5 separate regions of the Homo sapiens genome follow, and all the other regions are linked to region 4. Evidence: fine-mapped expression QTL. A gene starts in region 4. Each other region holds a variant in brackets. All regions are shown on one strand. Distances are between the middles of the regions. Region 1 overlaps EPHX1 (epoxide hydrolase 1). Region 2 overlaps TMEM63A (transmembrane protein 63A). Region 3 has its middle 15 kb from the start of MIR6741. Region 4 holds the start of TMEM63A (transmembrane protein 63A). Region 5 overlaps TMEM63A (transmembrane protein 63A).

Evidence for each region.
Region 1: its variant is fine-mapped to the expression of TMEM63A in monocytes after LPS (Fairfax 2014, PIP 0.95). The same link has a PIP of 0.9 or more in monocytes and monocytes after interferon gamma.
Region 2: its variant is fine-mapped to the expression of TMEM63A in whole blood (TOPMed, PIP above 0.99).
Region 3: its variant is fine-mapped to the expression of TMEM63A in whole blood (TOPMed, PIP above 0.99).
Region 5: its variant is fine-mapped to the expression of TMEM63A in lung (TOPMed, PIP 0.90).

What each region holds. Positions count from the first base shown.
Region 1 is chr1:225,843,425-225,847,537 of GRCh38, reverse strand. It overlaps EPHX1 (epoxide hydrolase 1), which reads right to left. Exons shown (of 9, transcript NM_001136018.4): 8 at 2,915-3,040; 9 at 1,975-2,392. The coding sequence ends at 2,191. It overlaps TMEM63A (transmembrane protein 63A), which reads left to right. Exons shown (of 25, transcript NM_014698.3): 24 at 325-504; 25 at 606-2,002. The coding sequence ends at 498. Among named protein-coding and RNA genes, the nearest start is that of EPHX1, 35 kb to the right of the region's middle. RefSeq lists an enhancer at 822-1,632. The variant T/C (reference allele first, on the strand shown) is at 1,763.
Region 2 is chr1:225,850,792-225,854,904 of GRCh38, reverse strand. TMEM63A (transmembrane protein 63A) reads left to right here. Exons shown (of 25, transcript NM_014698.3): 19 at 1,114-1,276; 20 at 2,136-2,241. Among named protein-coding and RNA genes, the nearest start is that of TMEM63A, 30 kb to the left of the region's middle. RefSeq lists an enhancer at 2,695-2,744 and a silencer at 2,835-2,884. The variant T/C (reference allele first, on the strand shown) is at 2,475.
Region 3 is chr1:225,904,950-225,909,062 of GRCh38, reverse strand. No RefSeq gene overlaps it. Among named protein-coding and RNA genes, the nearest start is that of MIR6741, 15 kb to the left of the region's middle. RefSeq lists an enhancer at 1,854-2,627. The variant T/C (reference allele first, on the strand shown) is at 2,366.
Region 4 is chr1:225,880,206-225,884,318 of GRCh38, reverse strand. It overlaps TMEM63A (transmembrane protein 63A), which reads left to right and starts at 1,939. Exons shown (of 25, transcript NM_014698.3): 1 at 1,939-2,015. RefSeq lists enhancers at 1,021-1,070, 1,131-1,180, 3,383-4,113 and silencers at 1,691-1,850, 2,411-2,530.
Region 5 is chr1:225,859,690-225,863,802 of GRCh38, reverse strand. It overlaps TMEM63A (transmembrane protein 63A), which reads left to right. Exons shown (of 25, transcript NM_014698.3): 11 at 952-1,032; 12 at 1,225-1,348; 13 at 1,452-1,585; 14 at 2,806-2,943. Among named protein-coding and RNA genes, the nearest start is that of TMEM63A, 21 kb to the left of the region's middle. The variant TGG/G (reference allele first, on the strand shown) is at 2,007.

The sequences.
Region 1 (4,113 bases), 37 kb after region 4:
TAGGTAGACTTGTTTCTTCTACAAAGTGAGAAATCCTCCTAGGATCCAGGGCTAGGAAGTTTAGTTTCCTCTGAGAACTGCTCTCTTGTGCTTCCTTCTGTGATCATGAGAACTGTATAACTGTGCTTTCTCTTTTGCCCTGGCTGCTAGGAAATTCTGCAGGTGTCATATTTTCGGTCTTAATGTCCTAAATGGATGTCGGTGTTTCTTCATATGTCCTTTATGGCCACTGTCTGTGTCCTGTTGGGAGAAGGGCAGGAGGGGAGGGATGCAGTGTGGAAGCTCATGCCTGTCCAGGCCAAGCACAAATCCATTTGCTGACAGCCCTACGTGCCTCGGATTCTGAACGGCTTGGCCTCGGAGAGGACAGCACTGTCTCCGCAGCAGCAGCAGCAGCAGACCTATGGTGCCATCCACAACATCAGCGGGACTATCCCTGGACAGTGCTTGGCGCAGAGCGCCACGGGCAGTGTGGCTGCTGCCCCCCAGGAGGCCTGAGGCTGGGTGAGCTGCTGGCTGGGCCAGGCTCAGGGGAGCCTGTGGGGTGAGAAGACAGGTGAAGCGGCCTGACTCCCAAGTTCATGACTTCTTCCCATCTGTTTTAGGTCTCACTGCTCTGAAAAGACACAACCAGAATGGCCTGGGGCTCAGGCCCTTGGCTGAGTGGGAATGCGTTGGGACTGCCCAGCTGAGCTATCAGGTGCCCATCTTTTCTGGTCCCAGCAGTGGTGAGGAGAGCACAGGCAGGCCTCGCCCCTCCCTTGCTCACCCAGTTTCCCCTCCGGCACAAGCTTCCAGCTCTGCAGCTGGGGTGACATCCCCAGTGGTTTGTCGCCAAGACCATGTGGTGGACTTTTCGCCCCCCAAACTGATGAGTCCGGGAGAATATATGGAGAGAGAGATGTAACAAGGGGAAGGCCTCCTCCCTTCTGAGCACACACACAACCGATAACCAAAGAGATGCTGCAGTCCAGGTCTGAGGTCCCGCTGGCATCCAGCTCCCTGCTCCATGGCCAGTCCCTCCCCAGCCCAGCAGTCCCTCCAGGCTACATCCAGGAGTAAGCTATGGGGAACAGGTTGGGAGGTGGCCAGTGCTCCTGCCAGCTGTGCACACATCTCTGTATCCCGCTAGAGTTCTGTGTTTTTGTATCATGTTGTCAGGGACGCTAGCTGGGTCAGGGTTACCCCATAGCAGGCAGGGACAAGGACCACTCATAATATGCCCATTGGACCACAGTTAAGATCCAGCCTCTCTCACCTCTTCAGGGCTGAGTGCATGAGTCTGCACCTCCAGGCAGGCTCTGTGCAGTACTCACCCCCTCCGTCTGCTCCCTCCAAGGTGTGGGGGTGGGCAGTGCTCAGGGCCTCCTCGGAGCCAAAGGACAGCATGGTCGGCACAGAGGAAGGGGTACCTGGGCTGGGTGCAGGGCCATCCCACTGCCCTTGAGCTGTGGCTCTGGCAGGAAGGAGGGGCAGCCCATCCCTCTTCTCCCTCCTGGGGATTCTGGGGAATGGGATGCAACTTAAGACTTCTGCCTGAGAAGCCTCCTCCCTGCTGCCTCCAGGGGGCACCAAGGCACAAGCCTGTGCAGTAGGGGCGGGATGGGGGTGTGGAAGAGCAGGTCCAGGCTCCTAGCACAACTGGCCTGGGGCCTTGGCACCTCTGTAGGCCCTGCCTGTGCCTGTCCGCTGGCCTGGGGGGCCTGGGCTTATCTGGGCCTTCTCACTCAGGGACTCTCTTGACGCTGACTTGCCCCCGCAG[T/C]GGTGGCCAGTGCTGCCTCTGCTCCAAGCTGCCCCTGCGCTGGGAGGGGTGGGGGCGGTGCCATTGGTCTGGTGCAGCATAGCCCTGGCCAGTGGCCTCATCCCCAGCAGGCCTCCCGTGCCTCTGCCAGCAAGGAGGGGCCGGCCAGCTCTGCTTGCACAGGGGGCCCCATGTGGGGTCAGCGCACGCTCATGTCACTGAGTTCCAGCCGCTTTTAGAGTAAAGTCGTTTATCATCAAAGCCATGTTGCTTACCACACGGAGTTGGGGGTTGGGGAGTGAGCTTGGAGGGGTGAGGGGGTGAGCGTGGGCTCCCAGCATGGGCAGGGGACGGAGGCAAACTCATTCCTCAGAAAAGGGGTATCTTCCCCAAGAAAAGCCTGGAGGGCACTTGTGGGGGGAGGTGGCAGGCGGGGGGAGAGGGGTGGGTCATTGCCGCTCCAGCACCGACAGGAACTTGCGGATGTCCTGGGCGAGCAGCTCCGGCTCCTCAAAGGCCGCAAAGTGGCCCCCACGAACCATGTAGGAATAGGAGATGAGCTTTGGGTACTTGAACCTCACCCACTTTTCAGGCGTGTGCAATAGCTCAAAAGGGAAGGCAGAGAAGCCAGTGGGCACATAGACCTTCATCCTGGAAGTGAAAGAGCCGACGGAGGGGTGAGGCTGTGGCCCTGCGCCCCTCCGTCCTGCACAGCAGGGGGTTAAAGCGCCTGGGGGTGAGATCAGCTGGCCCACCCACAAGGAGCCATAAAGAAAAGGACAAATCCAGGGTCTCAACCGCTCTCCCCTCACTGAGGGCCTTCTCTTTTCTGGGAGGGCCACCCAGGCAGGGGCATGGGACAGCCTCTAAATCCCCACCTTTGAGGGTTTCCATGTGAGACTTGGAAATCCCAGAACCATCAGTGCCACTCCAGACCAGCATCCTAGACTGGGGAGCGGTACTGAGGGCCGCCCGGGAGCCAGGCACCTGGTCCCTCCATGAGGGCTTTCTCCAAACACCTCGACCTTTAGTGTTCCCATCCAAGGGCCCCTGGGGCACCTGCAGGCAAGGCTATACTTATCCCACCACCAAGTGCCCTTCGTGGAGCCCAAGACTGGCCGTCCCCCTGCCTCCAGCCTCAGAGGCCCCTGTTCTCGGCTCAGCCAGGCTCACCGCTCATGCTTCTGGGTCATCCAGCCCTGTCCCAGGTTCTCCTTGTAGAAGCGCTGGGAGGAGATGATGGTGCCTGTTGTCCAGTAGAGCATGACGTTGGTCAGCAGGTCGTCCAGGGAGAACTTCCTGGGAACGCAGAACACAAAGCCCCACTCTCAGTGCCACATGCAGTTGTGTGACAAAGGGCAGCCAGAAAGTCCTACAAATGCCAGGCCCTGCCCATGCGGCTTCCCTCCTCAGACCTCATGCAACGTGTGTGGTATCCTCGTGTCACAGGCAGGCTGCGCCCAGGGCACTAGACTGGAGCGCATGGATTTAGTTGAAGTGTCTCTTATCACCCCAAGGTCCTCCCCCCACCCACCTTGCCTCTACACACCTGTCCCCTCTCTCCTGCCACTGACCTCTCCTCCCTCCCCTCAACCCCTGCACCGTGAAACTGCTCAGGGCACCAGCTACTGTGGTGACCACATACCAGGCAGCATGTTCTAAGCTCCTTACCTTCTTTTAATTCATGTTTTCCTCTCAACAGCCTATGGGACATAGGTACTATTATCTCCATTTTACTTATTAAGTGGAGAATCCAAACCTAGCCAGCTTGGGTCCAGGATGCATACTCCACAGCCCCCACCCCACCTTCCACTTTCCCCAGAGCACGCCCTCCCAACCCTACCTTCCTCACTCAAACCCTGAATCTCTAGCAACAGCAGCAGGGAGCAGGGACAGAGATAAAGGGAACAGCCTTTTCAATGTGATTTTGGTGGCAAAATGAAAACTGGTCAATGAAAACTAGTTCCAGTATACACATCACCTCTGTGAACTGGATTTCTGCAAGTTGGCCAAGTGCTTCCATCTCCCTTTCAGCTCTGCCCGCAGCTTGAAAACGACCACGACCACCATTTCCACCCTAGTGTATTCCTGTTCTTTCTAGAACACAGATCTGATCCTGTCTACCTCCTGCTCAGGGATTTGGTGCTCCCTGTAACCCGGGGCCAGAGCTGCAGGAGTGGCCTAGTGGGATAGTCTGGTGGGGCCTCACATCTTGCTCCAGGTATCCGTGTGCAAGGAGCAGGCCAGACCCCCTGCCAAGGTGGTCTTGCAGAAGCTCCATCAACCCCTGTGTCCTGCTGAATGTAGGGCAGGGGAAACAGATCCCAGACGAAGGCCCTGCTGAGGCTCTTGGAGGAGGTGAGGACCTGCCT
Region 2 (4,113 bases), 29 kb after region 4:
TCATCTCGCAGCATCCTCTTGTCACCCTCCTTGGTGGGTTCTCTCCCATCTCCCCAACTCTAGATTTTGGCTGCCTGAAGGCTCAGCCCCCAGTTCTGGGTCCACACTGCCTCTCTAGGTGACTTCAGCTGAACCCACGGCTTCCATGCCATGATACTGCTCCTGAATTAACTTATGCGGACAACATCCACATTTATGCCTCTAGCCTGCACCTCCAGGCTGGTAACCCAACTGCCCACCTCAAACTCTAGCTGGAGTTTTACTGGGTACCACGGATGTTACCTGCCCAAAACCAAACTCTCGACTTTTACCCTCAAATCTGCTACTCTACAACTTTCCCCATTCCATATTGTTTTTCTACTTGTTTTGGCAAAAAACCTCAAAGTTCACCTTGTTTCCTTTCTATCCCTCCCATGCCATACCCAGCCTACCAGAAAATCCTGACAACTCTCTCTAAAGTAGATCCAGAATCCCTTCATATCTCACCACCTCCATCACAACCGCCCTCATCCCACATGGGGATGACACAGTGGCCATCTGTGTAGTCTCCCTGACCCCATTGGAACAGATCCCTTGTCCTGGGCTGGCCCCCAGCCCCTTTCAGCCTTGTCTTCTGCCTCCCCTCGCCCACTGCTGTCCAGCCCCTGGATGTGCAGCAGACGAGGACATCCTCAGGTGTCTTGTATGTTGTTCCCTTTCCCTGGAATCCTGTCTTCCCAGGTTTGGGGATGACTTGCTCCTTCACCTCTTCACATTTCTGCACGAATATCACCTCGTTAGAAAGGCTCCTCCAACCCCTGTATGACATAGGAACCCTCCCTGCTTTGTTTTCCTCTAGTGCTCACCGTCCCCAGCAGATGGAATATTTGTTTGTCTGCTTGTTTGTGCCCCCAGCTAGAATGTGAACTTCAAGAGAGTGGCGCAGGGGCTTTGTTCTATTCTCAGTGCCTAGAAAGGTGCTTGGCACACAGATGTGTTTCCCAAATATGTGCTGAATGAACGGAAGAGTATACAGCCCTCCCAGGGGCTTTCTGCTCCTGCCCAGCCTAGGGGCCCCTCCTCTCCCTCCAAGAGCGGCTCTCAGCTCACAGACCTGGGCCCTGGTTTCCCCAGGTGCGTCTTCCTGCCTGACCAGGGTGCCTTCTTTGTGAACTATGTCATCGCCTCGGCCTTCATCGGCAATGGCATGGAGCTGCTGCGGCTGCCAGGTCTCATCCTCTATACCTTCCGCATGATCATGGCCAAGACGGCTGCTGACCGCAGGAATGTCAAGCAGGTGCCATCCCCTGGGCCCAGGGCTGTGCCTCTGACTCCCTCCCATGTCCCCCTTCACTGACCCGAGGGCCTCTCACCCCCACTACCCCCACTAGTGGGTAGCATTTACCTGACTACCCACTAGTGCAGGCACTGGGCTAAGTGCTTCTCAAACCCGGGTCCAGGCAGGCGTGGCCTCCTCCAGCCTCCTCTCTAGCTCACAGGCTGGAGGAGAGAGCTTGGGACTTTGGCATTTGAAACGGTTTGATCGCACACATACATACATACAACTCAAACCAACAGACTCTTTTTCTGTAGGCACCCATTTGCATAAATTCTTAGCCAAACCCCAGATGTCAAAGGCATTTTCGGCTTGTGGCATTTATTCCAGGATTCCCTGAACTGGAGGGTGTGGCTTTCTCTTTTATTCTCCTCTGCCATGGTGGGCACTGTGCGAGGAAAGTGGGAGAAGTGCTGCATTCCTTCATTTCATTCTCAGCCCCCTTATGAGCTGGGCACTGCTAGTATCCCGATTTCACAGAGGCATGAACTAAGCTGGCCCAGGATCCCCTGCTAGAAGGGCTGGAGTCACTCTACACCTCTTCCCTGACCACCTCTTCCCTCCAGGGGCTCACATGCCTGTTGGGTGGAACGAAGGGAGCACTAGCAAACACGCATCACCATGCCTCGGGAGGGCTGGGTGCACTGAGTGAAGCAGGGCAGGCTGGGAGGGATGGGAAGGACCTTGGGAGGCGGGGAGCCACGCATCTCCTATTTCCAAAGTCCTCCTCCACCCTGCTCTCCCATCACCACTTAGAGAGCACAAAAGGGTGTTTGAGGTGGAACAAGTCCATGAGCTCCTCACCACCTCCTCCTCCCAGAACCAGGCCTTCCAGTACGAGTTTGGAGCCATGTATGCATGGATGCTGTGTGTCTTCACTGTCATCGTGGCCTACAGCATCACTTGTCCCATCATCGCGCCATTTGGTGAGTGGCCCTGGAGCCTGTCCCAGGGTACATGGGTACATGGACGGCTGATTGCACCAAACCTCTCGGGGACAGCTATCACCAGGGCACAATGGAGTTCCCAAAACCACAGCCACAAGAGCCACAAGCTGCTAAAGACTCACGTGACACCAGATTTCACTCATTTCTTTCTTTTTTTGTTTTGAGACAGGGTCTCATGCTGATGCCCAGGCTGGAGTGGCATGATCTTGGCT[T/C]ACTGCAACCCCCACCTCCTGGGCTCAAGCCATCCTCCCATCTCAGCCTCCTGAGTAGCTGGGATTACAGGTGCCCGCCACCATGCCTGCCTAACTTTTTGTATTTTTAGTAGAGATGGGGTTTCACCATGTTGGCCAGCCTGGTCTTGAACTCCTGACCTCAGGTGATCCACCCGCCTCAGCCTCCCAAAGTGCTGGGATTATAGGCATGAGCCACAGCACCCGGCCTCATTCATTTTTAAATGAATTCCTCCCACTGGCCCTCAGCTAGGACCTCTCTTAGTATTTCTGGTCTGAGGTTCTCTGCCCACTGACTATGTCGTTCATGGTTGATTTCTTTAGCAGCAAGTAAGACAGTGCCAGAGTCACAATCAAAGCTCTCGTGCTGCTTTCACTCTGGCAGATGCCTGCCTCCACGTGGATTACCACATTTCTCACCTCATCCTACAAGGCAGTTCCTGTTTCTATTCCCCCTTCACACAAAATAACTTCGTATGTTGTTAGTAAGCAGGAGAACCAGCCTTTGAACTCAGGACTGTTTAAAGACCAAGGTCCTGGCCACTGAAATAAAACATCTGCAACTGGCAGATTAATGAAAGGCTCTAGAAGGAAACAAAAAACCCAAGAGACTGCTGGCAGTGATAGCTGAGTTTTAGGGGGAAAAGTTGTTTTAGTTTTCCCTGTATACTTTCTTGTGTAGTTTTAAAAATCTACAGTATTTACACTTTCAAAACAAAATTTATTTTTTAAAAAAGAACCTGGGGCTGGGCACGATGGCTTATGCCTGTAATCCCAGCACTTTGGGAGGCCTAGGCAGTGCATCACCTGAGGTCAAAAGTTCAAGAACAACCTGGCCAATATGATGAAACCCTGTCCCTACTAAAAATACAAAAATTAACTGGGCATGGTGGCAGGCGCCTGTAATCCCAGCTACTCGGGAGGCTGAGGTAGGAGAATCACTTGAACTCAGGAGGCAGAGGTTGCAGTGAGCCAAGATTGCACCAGTGCACTCCAGCCTGACCAATGAGCGAGACTCCATCTCAAAAAAAATAAAAAATAAAAAAACAAAAGAACCTGGCATAATAGAAAAGGCAGCACCCACTTTCTGTTGGTCCCCTGTGTGCTCCTGTGCCACCCCTGGGGTAAGACCCTTGGGCCTCATTCTCTGTTGACTGTGATGAGGGCAGGGATCAGCCGGGTGGGAGAAGGCCAGGGGTGTGGGAGCACTGACATACAGGGGCTCAGCATGGGAAGGGCTGGGGAGGAATTGAGGCCAGGCATCCAACTGTGAAACAGCCTCTTTCCAAGATGATTCTGGAATGTTAGTGTTCTGTGGGGACAGGATCACAGACACTGTGACTCCCTTGGTGCAGGGTCTGTCCCACAGACCCTGACCCAGCGACGGATGAAAGACATACACTGCCGGGTGCGGTGGCTCTCGCCTGTAATCCCAGCACTTTGGGAGGCAAAGGTGGGCGGATCACGAGGTCAGGAGATCGAGACCATCCTGGTTAACATGGTGAAACCCTATCTCTACTAAAAATATAAAAAATTAGCCGGGCATGGTGTCAGGCGCCCGTAGTCCCAGCTACTTGAGAGGCTGAGGCAGAAGAATGGCATGAACCCAGGAGGCGGAGCT
Region 3 (4,113 bases), 25 kb before region 4:
ATTTGTTTAATGCACAGATAAGCTAAAACCTCCACCGTCTACAGGGTTCCTGTTGTTTGCTCAGTGCAGAGCACAATGGCTATTGTTTAGCAGGTATTTAATGAGGATTGTTGAGCCATGAGATGAGGGCAGGTGAGAGAGAAGCAGGTGTGGAAGCCAGGCCAAGGCTTCTGCTTGGTGACACCATTAACTGACCTGGAAAATCCTGGAAGGGGATAGGTTTGAGAGGAATAATAAAAATAAAAGCTGCGTTCATGGAGTGCCAGATACAGGTCAAAGCTGGAGCTGGACTTCCCCAACCTTCCCCAGTCCCCACAAACAACCCTATCCAGTGCGTGTTTCTATCTGACGCCCGTTTTCACAAATGAGAAAAATGAGGCTCATTGGGGTTGCCCAGGGCCGAGATGAGATGAGCAGCATGGCTGGAGCCTGCGCTGAACCCCATTGCCATCGGGAGTTCCTCTTTAAGGGGAGGTGGGCCCCCCATTTTCAGACCGTAGGGAAAGAGGCAGGGCCTCAGAAGAATCTGGAGGCACAGATGTGGGTTTGCAACCTGGCACTGTGACTGTGGACTTGGAGCTGAGTCCACATCAGTGTAGGCAGAGTGGCACATCACATTCCTGGGCTGCTACAGCAAAACTGTAATGACCAGGCCTGGGTCGCTTAAGCAACAGAAATGTGTTTGTCAACCTTGGCACGGTGGTGGCTCATGCCTATAATCCCAGCTACTCAGGAGGCTGAGGTAGGAGAATTGTTTGAGGCCAGGAGTTCTAGACAAGCCTGGGCAACATGGTGAGACCCCTGTCTCTACCAAAGAAAGCCAGGTATGGTGGCTTATGCCTGTAATCCCAGTGCTTTGGGAGGGAGGCCAAGGTGGGAGGATTGTTTGAGGACAGGAGTTTGAGACCAGCCAGGGCAATACAGCAAGACCCCATCTCTACAAAAAATAAAAGAAAAAGAAATTTATTTTCTCACAGTTCTGGAGGCTAGAAGTTCAAGACCAGGGACACCAGTCATACTGGATTAGAGTCCATCCTAGTGACCTCATCTAACTTAATTTTCTCTTTAAAGGCCCTATGTCCAAATAGACACATTCAGAGGTACTGAGGGTTAGAGTTTAAGCATATGAATTTTGGGGGTCCACAATTCAGCCCATGTCAAGCAGCCTGGAGATCATGAAGAGTCAAGGGATGAGGGAGAAGAAGGAGACAGAGGGCCTGGGGAAGCAGGGGGAGGATTTCAGCACAAGGGTGGAGTGGAGCCTCCAGCTGGCCTGGGTGAGAGGGGCAGGGTGAGGAGGGCCACGTTCCTGAACCCAGACCCCTGGATAGGAGGATGCTCAGGAGAAGAATGAGGCTGCATGGCAAATGCACCCGTCAGGCAGACCTACTTCAGACGAAGGTCAGTGTGGCTGTGGAGGCCCCGCTGGTCATCCCCAGCCAGGGCTGTGGTGTCTTCATCATGGAGAATACAGGCCGCTCCCCAGAGCTGTGGTGTGCAGGGCTCAGGCCGCACTGACCCCTTCCCTGCTGGGCTGAGCAGCTGGAAATCCAGGCTGCAGGGGAGCCATTTCCTCAGGGAGCCCTCCCACTCCTCACACAGAGTCTGCTTCAGGCCCAGGCCACACCTGGAACAAAGGCGGTCACGACCACCCCTGAACCCCTGGCCACAGGACCCAGAGCCCCAGTTCAACCCCCACTGTGAACCACTGTGAGCACTCCTCATCTTGCCCACCTCTGAAGGGGCCAGCTTTGTTCTTTTCCTTCTCCTTGCCGCCTGTCTGGAATCGGCCTGTGGCGGCTCCCATCTGGTGGCCAAAGGACCTTGGGCTGTAAGATAGGAAAAGGCTGAACTCTGTTGTTGGACACATTCTGGGGGCTTCCAGGTACCAAGCAGGAGGATCAAACCTTCCCAGGGACCAGCATCTTTCATTAACAAAATCCAAAACCATGTCACAGGACCCTCAGGAGCCTACTCCGTGGGCATGGGGCAGCCACAGAGCCAGCCTTGGCCTCGGTGCTGCCCTCAGTCAGCTCGTGGTCCGGGAAGGGATCATACACACTGCCACAGTCACAGCCTCACACTTACACATGGACACACCCACACATGCTCCCACACGCATGTGCACACACACACACGCACACACACACACCATAGGATGCTTCTGTTTTATTTGACACCAAACTAACACATCTTGGAAACTTCTTATGGAAACACCAACAGTAAACATGGAAAGTGGAAATAAAACACACACCCGAGATGATTCCTAATTAGCGGAAACAGCCCTAGTCTAGATCCAGAGACCCTGGAGGGACACGAACGTGGTGCAGGTCAAATTCCCCGTTGTCCAGCGAGGGTCATGGGC[T/C]GCCCAAGGCCACACAGCTCACTGCCCTGTGCCATGTCCAATCCCCTTGCAGCCTCCCTCAGCTCATGCTCAAGTCACACAGGCCTCCCCAGGCCTGCCCTGTCAATGCTGACCCACAAACAGGCTCACATAATGCTCCCTCCCAGGGGCACAGCAGCCTTGGCTTTGATCTGAGGTGGGGCTTTCCTGGCCTGAAAGTTGATGTGGCCAGCCTTCAACCTGTCCCCCATATCACCGTCTGCTTTTGGAGACCCAGGGCAGGAAGCTGAAGCCTTATGTGGGAAAATGAGGGCTGGTCCCACGGCAGCCCTGGGGACCAGCTCTCTCCTTCGCTTTATGTATTATTTCATTTTTAATTACAGAACCAAGGTAGCAGAGCCTCTCAGGCTGAGCCAGAAAATAATCAGCTTTTTAATTTGATTTTTGTTCTCCCAAAGGAGAACAAGGGGCTCCAGGGGCACCATGAGGCCTGGACCTTGGAGATATGGTTAGATCCTCTAACCTATAGATGCTTGACTCCAGGCTGGCTCACCATCTACAGTGGGGTGACCTCCGCAGGCCCCAGTTTCTCTCTCTTTAAAATGAGCGGTTGGACCAAAGCTTCCTCTCAGGTCCCTTCCAGCACCAAGCCTCTCTGATCTCTGAGCAGTCCTCACCCCACATGCGTGGCTTTGCAAATTTTCCGACCTCTCTTCCATTTCTGAGCTTTCATCTTTTTCTGTAACGGCATAAAAATATCCTCCTTACCTCCCTGTCCCTGATTCTAGCGCCAGTCTGTGGCTGTCCAGGGGTGGGGTGGGGAGGGTCTCTTCCTGCCTCTCTCAGTTCTTTTCTGTCCCCTCTGGCTTTCCCCTTCTCTCCCCAAACCTCTAGCCACTAGTTATTTCCCAGAGTTTTTCCTCTGTGCTCCCCTCAGTATCATCTCTGCTCTTGTACCTCTGTAGCTGTGCCTGGCCATCTACTCTCCCTGCTCTCTTACCTCCTGCCAAAGACCCCACATCTGACCTTCTGCAGAGTCCTGGATGTGGCCCCTGGACTTCCCATCAGTTCTTCAGACTGTCCCTGTCCAATCTTCTTTCCACTCCCCACTCCCGCACCTGCCTGTCCTCCCTTCCCTGCCTCAATGAATGGTGCCCCCTCCACCCTGCCTGATCTATGCCATGGGTCCAGGCAAGTGCAAGGTCTGGCCCTGGGACCAGAAGGATGGGCCTTGACTCAGGGCGAGGAAGGACCCTCTTCCTAGCTTCCCCCAAATAGCTTGATCCACCTCCCTTCTCAGTTACACTGTGCAGCTTTCTTGCTCTGAAAGGTTGGAGACATTTACTGTTTTTGAAATTGTAGGATCTCTGTTCCTCAGACCCAAGGTGCAGAATGTCTTGGTTATGAGTCGGTGACAAAGCCCTGCCAAATCCAGGTCTCCAGACTCCACCCCAGGGGTCTCCCTGGTCTGACACTGCAAGCTGTGCTCCTCCCCAACCTCCCAACATCTGGACTCGCTGGGAGCTCCCTGGAGCTGGAAGCATGGGCTGGTTTCAGCAAGGACCTGCTGTCACTGGGCTGAGGAGGACAGGCCACTGGTGCTGCCCCCTCACAGGAAGGTCCATGAACAATGCACTAGGTGCCTTCCTGTCAGAAGATGCTCTGGGAATTCCTGGGTGGCCAGAGCCCTCCACCCTGGGTCTAGGGAAACCAACCCTTAAAAGCTAGCCAGGCGCGGTGGCTCACGCCTGTAATCCTAGCACTTTACA
Region 4 (4,113 bases):
TGACATAACAAAGGCTGTGGCTATCTCAACTCACATATCGATCCATCAAGGCCTTCTCTTGATTTTGAAATAACCTTAACCTACTCAAGAACAAATTTAGAAATCCTTTCTCTCTCTGAAATCTTTGTCAGTGGCTCCAGCATTCTAATTACCAAGACCGGAACCTTGCACTTGCCTGGACCCATGGCACAGACCAGACAGGTGGGGGCACCATTCATTGAGGAAGGAAGGAGGACAGGCAGGTGCGGGAGTGGGGAGTGGAAGAAAGATTGGACAGGGACAGTCTAAGGAGCCAACGGGGAGTCCAGGGGCCACACCCAGGACTCTGCAGACCGTCAGATGTGGAGGTAAGAGAGCAGGGAGGGGGGATGGCCAGGCGCAGCTATGGAGGGACAAGGGCAGAGATGATACTGGCGGGGGGCATAGAGGAAAAACCCTGGAAAATAACTAGTGGCTAGAGCTTTGGGGAGAGAAGGGGAAAGACAGATGGGACAGAAAAGAACTGAGAGAGGCAGGAAGAGACCCTCCCCACCCCACTCCTGGACAGCCACAGACTGGCGCTAGAATCAGGGACAGGGAGGTAAGGAGGAATTTTTTTTTTTTTTTTTTTTTTTTTGAGACAGAGTTTCGCTCTTGTTGCCCAGGCTGGAGTTCAATGGTGAAATCTCAGCTCACCGCAACCTCCGCCTCCCAGGTTCAAGCGATTCTCCTGCCTCAGACTCCCTAGTAGCTGGGATTACAGGCATGTGCCACCACACCCGGCTAATTTTGTATTTTTAGTAGAGACGGGGTTTCTCCATGCGGGTCAGGCTGGTCTCGAACTCCAGACCTAAGGTGATCCGCCCACCTCGGCCTCCCAAAGTGCTGGTATTACAGGCATGAGCCACCGCGCCCGGCCATAAGGAGGATATTTTTATGCCGTTACAGAAAAAGATGAAAGCTCAGAAATGGAAGGGAGGTCGGAGAACCTGCAAAGGCATGCATGTGGGGTGAGGACTGCTCAGAGCTCAGAGAGGGGTGCTGGAAGGGACCTGAGAGGAAGCTTTGGTCCAACCACTCATTTCACAGATAGGGAAACAGGGGCCTGCGGACGGGTTGGTTTGCTCCTTGATTCCCAGGGCGCGCGGTCCTCCCCGAACCCAGCCTCGCTTCCCGCGCAGCGCCCAGCAGTCCCTGGCGCGGCGGGCCGGCCCTGCCCTCGCGAGCTTGCGGTCCGGTTGTGGAGGCCACCGGCTCCCTGGAAACATTTGGCTCCCGGCCGGGAGGCATGCCGCGCTCTCGGACCTGGGCTGGAGTAGGTGCCCTTGGCGGCCCTGGCTCGAGCAGTAATGGACTAGCCCCAGGGGGCGTTGGAAATGCTGCGACCCGCCCCCACATTTTTGCCCGAACGGAGACCCTCCGGGCTTTCACGGTCCGGCCTTCTACAGCGGCGGGGGAGCCGTGGCCTCTTGCAGGGCGCTCCGCGCGGTTCCCGACTACCCGGAGCCGAGGTGCGGGCTGAATCCTGCTGAGCTCCCCATGCTACCACCCCCGCAACCCCACTCTCCCGGGGCGGGTCTAAGAGCTCTTCGGGGAAATTCAAAGCACTACAGGGACCAACGTTTGCAGATGCTCTCCCTGCGCCGCGACCACCCTGTGCTTGGCCCAGTTCTCCCGGAGGCGTCCAGAGACTGGGCTCGTGCCGGGGGACGGAAGAGGGTGCGCCCCGGCGGATCCCTTCTTGGAGCCTGGACGTGAGCTGGCCGGTCCGGGGCTTGCAGACCTCCGGGAGGAGCTGCGGGGCTGAGCGGCGACCAGGAGGCCAGGCCGGGGCAGAGGACCGCCGAGGGCCACCGCGGGAGGCGCAGTCAGCTGCGTACAGGCTTGCGCCGCCGCGGGCCAAGACTCCAAATTGGGAAAGGGGTGGCCGCAGCTCTGCGCATGTGCAGGAGGCGCCGGAGTTTCACTTTGTAACTTTTAAGTGGTCGGAACACGCCCCGCGCTGCTGGGTCCCGCCAGACACGCCGCCGCCGCAGGTACAGGGGACAGGGGGCGTGAGGAGGGGCAATGCACCCTCCGCCTTTCCCGGGACGTGCGCGCCAGGTGTCCGGTTCCGGAACGGCTCCCAGCCTACGCAGACCCCAGAGCCCCCGACCCCAAGCAGGGGGTGACGACGCGGGATTGGGTGGGAGGAGAGGGTCCGGGCAGCGCCTCCATTCCAGCCCTGCGCTCCTTGGGAATTCCTGGCGGCTTTTCAGGACTTTCCTCTCCGGCTTTTCGCTTTCAGGGCTGGTATCTCCTTCTTCCCCACCCCTCTCTTTGGGATTTGTCGGCGGAGTCCGACCTCCCACCTAACTAGGAGTGCAGCTATGGGCTCCTCGGACCCTATACGAGGCCGGGCTGGGAAAGGGCCAAGCGTCCGACTCTCCTGACGCCAGGAAGGCAGAGGCCACCCCTCGGGCTGTTCCTGGGTGACCACTTCCTGCAGCCTTGGCGGAGTCCTGAGGAGGGAGGCTGGGGACTCGGGGACTGGGGGGAAGGGCGGGGGCGGAAAGGGTGAGGCGAGCTCTGCTAAGAAACCAAATCCGCAAAGGTTCCAGCACCTGATAAGACTAGCTACCTGAGGCCCTGGAGGGGCCTTGGTCATTCAGCCCCAGGCAGGTGGTGTCCTCTTCAAGGGCAGGGGTGGACAGCGTGGCGGACCCACTGACCCTCCCTTGACACCTCTCAGGTCATCCTCAAGTCTGCTGTGCCTTCAAGGGGGATATGAACGGAAGCCGAGGCTCCTTTTCCCTTCACACGCCCCTCTCCTTTGTTTAGTGTGGGGGCAAAGGTCTCTCCTAGCTGTTCGTTGGGCTCTAACAGAGAAGACGTCAGGTGGGATCCTGCCCTTGTGTTTCCCATTAGCTGGAGGGGCGACTTAAAATAAAGGCAGACAGCTTCTAATTGCTTGCTAGGGCCGGGTCCTGGGCTAAGTGCTTTACAGGTGTTGTTTGGGATCTGTGCCTCCCAACAGCTCCGTGAGAGAAAGTCATCACTCGCATTTCCTGGCGAAGGAAGCCAAGGCACAGAGTGGTTAGGCTGCTTGTCTGAACTGCGTGGTGCTGAGACCCTAACTCCAGAGCCTGCTCACATAATCCCTGAGCCACACTGCCTCTGGTTTCAGCCAGGGGCTGTGTCATTTCCTTTGTGCTCCAGGGTAGGAGGTAAACAGTTGTCCAGGTTACTGGGTCCTGTTTGGTGTTGCCATAAGGAGAAGTTTGTACTTTACTTTGCAACCTTATTCTGCATCTGAAAGACCAGAGTTAGCTCCTGAGGCAGAAGGCCTGGAGCTGCTTGTAGTTTCGCTATTGTCATCACAGGATTGAAAGATTTGGTGATGATAAAATTACCCTGAATTTGTACGGGCCTTCTTGCAAGAACGAACAATATCCATATACTTCCTGCAACATTCTGCTGGTATTTCTAGAGCTTGTCAAGTTGACCACCAGGCCAGTCCTTGCTGCCAATGGAGACTGGCAGTGGATTAGCATAGGTAGTTTACTTTGGCAAATTTAGACCAGCTGTTGGATTTAGCCCTCTCCCACTGGCCACAATCAGACGCTTGCCTGCACATGGGTTGAACTTTGGGTTGGGAGCGTGAAGTCACCTGCTGCCCACTCTGGCTCTTGGGCCTCAGCAGTAATTCTTGGCTTTCCTACCCTCGGCATATTGAGTAGGAATAAGGGGATGAATGGAGAATTTCTGGAAGGCACAGGTAAGTGCTAGGCATTCACATACATCTAGGATGACTGAATATTGCCAGGGGTTCTCAGCCAGGCAGTGCCACTTCAACCACAGTGCCTAGCTGCTGGTTTGGCCTCCTCTATACAGCTGCCAGCTGGGTGCTCCCCTCCCCCTGCCTTCTCCTCAGCCTGGCAGCACTGTCCCATGGTGTCTGTGTTCCCAGCTGCCTGCTCAGAGCGTGCCTGTTTGTGAAAATGCAGAGGAGCTGTCCCATGGAGAGCCAGAGGGACGGAGCTGTTTCAGGGGGATCTGGACTTTATGTGTCTAATGGGCAGGGACAGGCTGGGACTGAGCTGAAAGGTCTGAGAGAGATTGTGGGTCCCCAGAGCTCTACCCTAACCTGGGTGC
Region 5 (4,113 bases), 21 kb after region 4:
CTGGATTACAGGTGTGTGCCACCACACCTGGCTAATTTTTGTATTTTTAGTAGAGACAGCGTTTCACCACATTGGCCAGGCTGGTCGCAAACTCCTGACCTCAAGTGATCCACCCGGCTCAGCCTCCCGAAGTGCTGGGATTACAGGCATGAGCCACCGCACCTGGCCTTGCTGGTTGTTAATATGTGTGTAGATATTTTCTGGTCTGAGGGTCCTTTGCTTTCATTAGACCCTCTGAAAGGTCTGTGACCTTAAAAAAGGCTACCTGAATAGGATTTCAGTGATGGCTCAAGGTAGATACTGACCTAGCACAAACAATAAATCTGTTCCTTTGGGTCTTTAGAGGGGATAGTGATGTGTTCATTTTTCCCCAGGAGAAGTGCCAGCTGATTCCAAGCCAAGTGGGTATAAACTTGTCAGTTCCAGGCAGTTAGCTTCATACTACTAAAAAAGGCTAGCGGGGTGCAGTGACTCACGCCTACAATCCCAGCACTTTGGGAGGGTGAGACAGGAGGAGTGCTTGAGGCCAGAAGTTCGAAATCAGCCTGGGCAACATAGCGAGACCCCGTCTCTACAAAAAATAAAAATCAGCCTGGTGGCATGTGCCTGTAGCCCCAGCTACTCAGGAGGCTGAGGTGGGAGGATTGATTGAGCCCAGAAGGTTGAGGCTACAGTGAGCCATGATTGTGCCACTGTACAGCAGCCTGGGTGACAGAGTGAGACCCTGTCTCTAAACAAAACAAAACAAAACAAAAGCCCTCTTTGTATTAAATTTCAAAATTTCCCCCTTTTGGAGGATAAAAGACAAAGAGAAGAGAGGTCTCCGCTGGCACAGAAACCAGCAGCGAGATCACTCTGCCATCCTTTCCCTTGGATCCGTGGGCACGTCTCCTGCTTGGGGTGTTTTCTTTTCCAACGGTGTCTTTTGCCTCCTTCTCTCCCTGGCCACAGGGACGCGTATCCCACGTGTGAGGTGGTTGATGTGCAGCTGTGCTACAACGTGGCCAAACTGATCTACCTGTGCAAGGAGAAGTGAGTGGTGGGCGGGCCTTGCAAGATGCCCCCTCCTTCCTTGCTGGCCTCGCATCTCCCAGCTAGGAAGGGAGGCGGGAGGCCCTGGACCCCTCCTTCTCCCCTGGCGTTCGATGGTTGAACTGTGGGTATGGGGGTCCCTGCCACAGGATTCTAAATCTGAGGTTTGTGCCCCCGCTCCCACCCCTACAGAAAGAAGACTGAGAAGAGCCTGACCTATTACACAAACCTGCAGGTGAAGACAGGCCAGCGGACCCTCATCAACCCCAAGCCCTGTGGCCAGTTTTGCTGCTGTGAAGTGCTGGGCTGTGAGTGGGTAAGGGTCCCACCCCCCGGCTGGGAGCAGAGGCATTGGCATCGGGGTGCCCCAGATACCAGCATGGGGCCACGTCATCCCAATGGGATGTGTCTTGTGGCAGGAAGACGCCATCTCTTACTACACACGGATGAAGGACAGGCTGCTGGAGAGGATCACAGAGGAAGAACGCCACGTCCAGGACCAGCCCCTGGGAATGGCCTTCGTCACCTTCCAGGAGAAGTCCATGGCCACCTAGTGAGTGTAGGCACATCCAGACCCCTTCTTGGCTGACTCCCTGTTCCCCTCCAGATAACTCACTGTCCCTCTCGAGTGGAGATGGTACTGCTGACCCACCATCCCTGGGATTTATCTGTGGTGTTTCCTTCTCCTCCCTCAGCTACCCACACTCACTTTCAGCCAGCCCAGCCCATGTTTGTGTAACAGGCGGTGGGGGTGTGGGCAGCAGCCACGGAGTGGGTGATTCTGGCTGACCCCCTCGAGCTGATGTGGCCTGGCCCCACTGCTGGGCTCTTCCCTGCTGCCCTGGACCCATCCTGTTGGCTTCATGTGCCAGCCTTGCCCCAGGGGAGATGGAGGCACCCTCCTTTCAGACATCTGCTCTGGGCCACAGATCCTTCTGTCTGTGGCTCCCCACCTTCCCACAAATGCAAAGCTG[TGG/G]GGAAGACCCCTGGGGCACGCTGGGGCGCTCACTGCAGTGGGGAGCTTGACCCTGGGGAGTGGCTTTTCACAGTGGCCCTTGGCATGGGACTCTAGGCTCTCATGCCTGTGGTCTCAGTGTCATCTCGCCTTAGGAGCAGCACAGGGTGGGTCGGGAGAGGGGTGTGGAAAGGTGTCCAGCCACTGCCCCAGGCATTGTGACACTAGGAATGGACTCACACAGGACTTCCTGCCTCCTTGCAGACACTGGGGCAGGAGGAAAGGGGAAGGCATCTGAGGCAGGAGTAGAGGGGCTGCTGGGCTCCTTACGGGAGGTTAAAGGAGGAAAAGCTGTGACCTGTTGAGATGGTGAGGGTCGAGGTGGGAGCCCTGAGGAGGGAAGCTTGGGAACAGGCAATGTGTAACGTGGTCTATTGCTACACTTGGGCCTGGGGAAAAAGTGACAGAATGAAAAGTTGAGCCACTGGCCTGGCAGTAGCACTGATCAGAGCTCCAGCTTAACAGGCAGGGTGGAGGGGGATGGCCCTATGGAAGAGCAGTGTGTTGCCCTCAGTTTCCTTATCTGTAAAATGGGAATCGTACTCCCTTTGTTGCTGGTGGTTGCGAGGATTAAACAAAATTCTCCACACACTGTGCTAGCGTGGCACCTCTTACATAGCGTTACTCATAATACACTAATCACAACAAAGCAAAGGTCCTATGCCACTGCCTCCCACTCCTACTCAGTCCCCACTTGCCACATGTGTGCTTGGTAACCTGAGTAGCCTGGGCCTGGCTGTTGCTACATTTCCTTGCAGCATCCTGAAAGATTTCAATGCCTGCAAGTGTCAGAGCCTTCAGTGCAAAGGTGAGCCCCAGCCGTCCTCCCATAGCAGGGAGCTCTATACCTCCAAGTGGACAGTCACCTTTGCTGCTGACCCTGAGGACATCTGCTGGTAAGCTCCTAGACCAAGGAGAGGTGGGAGAGAGGCCTGGGTTCCTGGTGGGAGCTGCCCATCACCTGGAGCACAGGTGTGACCTGGCAGTCAATGGAGATCTCCACACATCTGCAATTCTGTGGGCTGTGATGCTGTGATGTGCTCGGTGTGGCCCAACTGGGGTATCTGCCCAGCCCTTCCCTCCAGTGTTCCTCCCTAGCATTCAAGTGCTACCCAGCAGAAATATAATGCCAGTTCTGCATCTAATTTTAAATTTCCTAATAGCCATGCTAAAAAAGTAAAAAGAAACAGTTGAAATTAATTTTAATAATGTATCTCGCCCAATATATCCAAACTGTTATTTCAACATGCAATTTTTGAAAAATGTGAGATGTTTTACATTCTCTTTTTCACACTTAGTCTTCAATATCTGGTGTGTATTTTACACTTCTAGCACCTCTCAATTCACACCAGCCACATTTAAAATGCTCAGTAGCCGCATGCAGCTTGTGCAGCCTTACTTAGGTCCAGTGTCAGCCTGGGGCCGTGCTGGGGAGCTGAGCTGTGTCCATGGGGGCCCTGGTGAGCCTCCAGTGCTGTGCTGAGGGTAAGGGCACCCAGCGCAAGCCCCAGCGCAGCTGCCTGTCCAGCCCTGCCTCAGCTCCTTGCACAGAATGAGCTTGAAGTGCTCCCCTCTGCTCGGTTCTAGTTCTGCCTCTGACAGTTTTGCTCTTTGGTTCACAAGGCTTCCTAAACTCAGGATTGCTTTGTGGGTCTGTTCTTTGGGATGAGAGGCCAGGGCAGGTGCAAGCTATGCCTTCACTCCTTTGTCCCTGCCTTCCTCCTTCCTGTACCCCAGCTACAGCCCCGTTGGGAAGAATGTGTCGTTAGTCACAAAGCATTGCAGATGTGTCTAAGAAATGCCACGCTGGGGCCGGGCGTGGTGCTCACACCTGTAATCCCAGCACTTCGAGAGGCTGAGGCAGGCGGATTGCCTGAGCTCAGGATTTCAAGACCACCCTGGGTAACATGGTGAAACCCTGTCTCTACTAAAAATACAAAAAAATTAGCTGGGTGTGGTGGTACACGCCTATAGTCCCAGCTACATGGGAGGCTGAGCAGGAGAATTGCTTGAACCTGGGAGGCAGAGGTTGCAGTGAGCCGAGATCACACCACTGCACTCTAGCC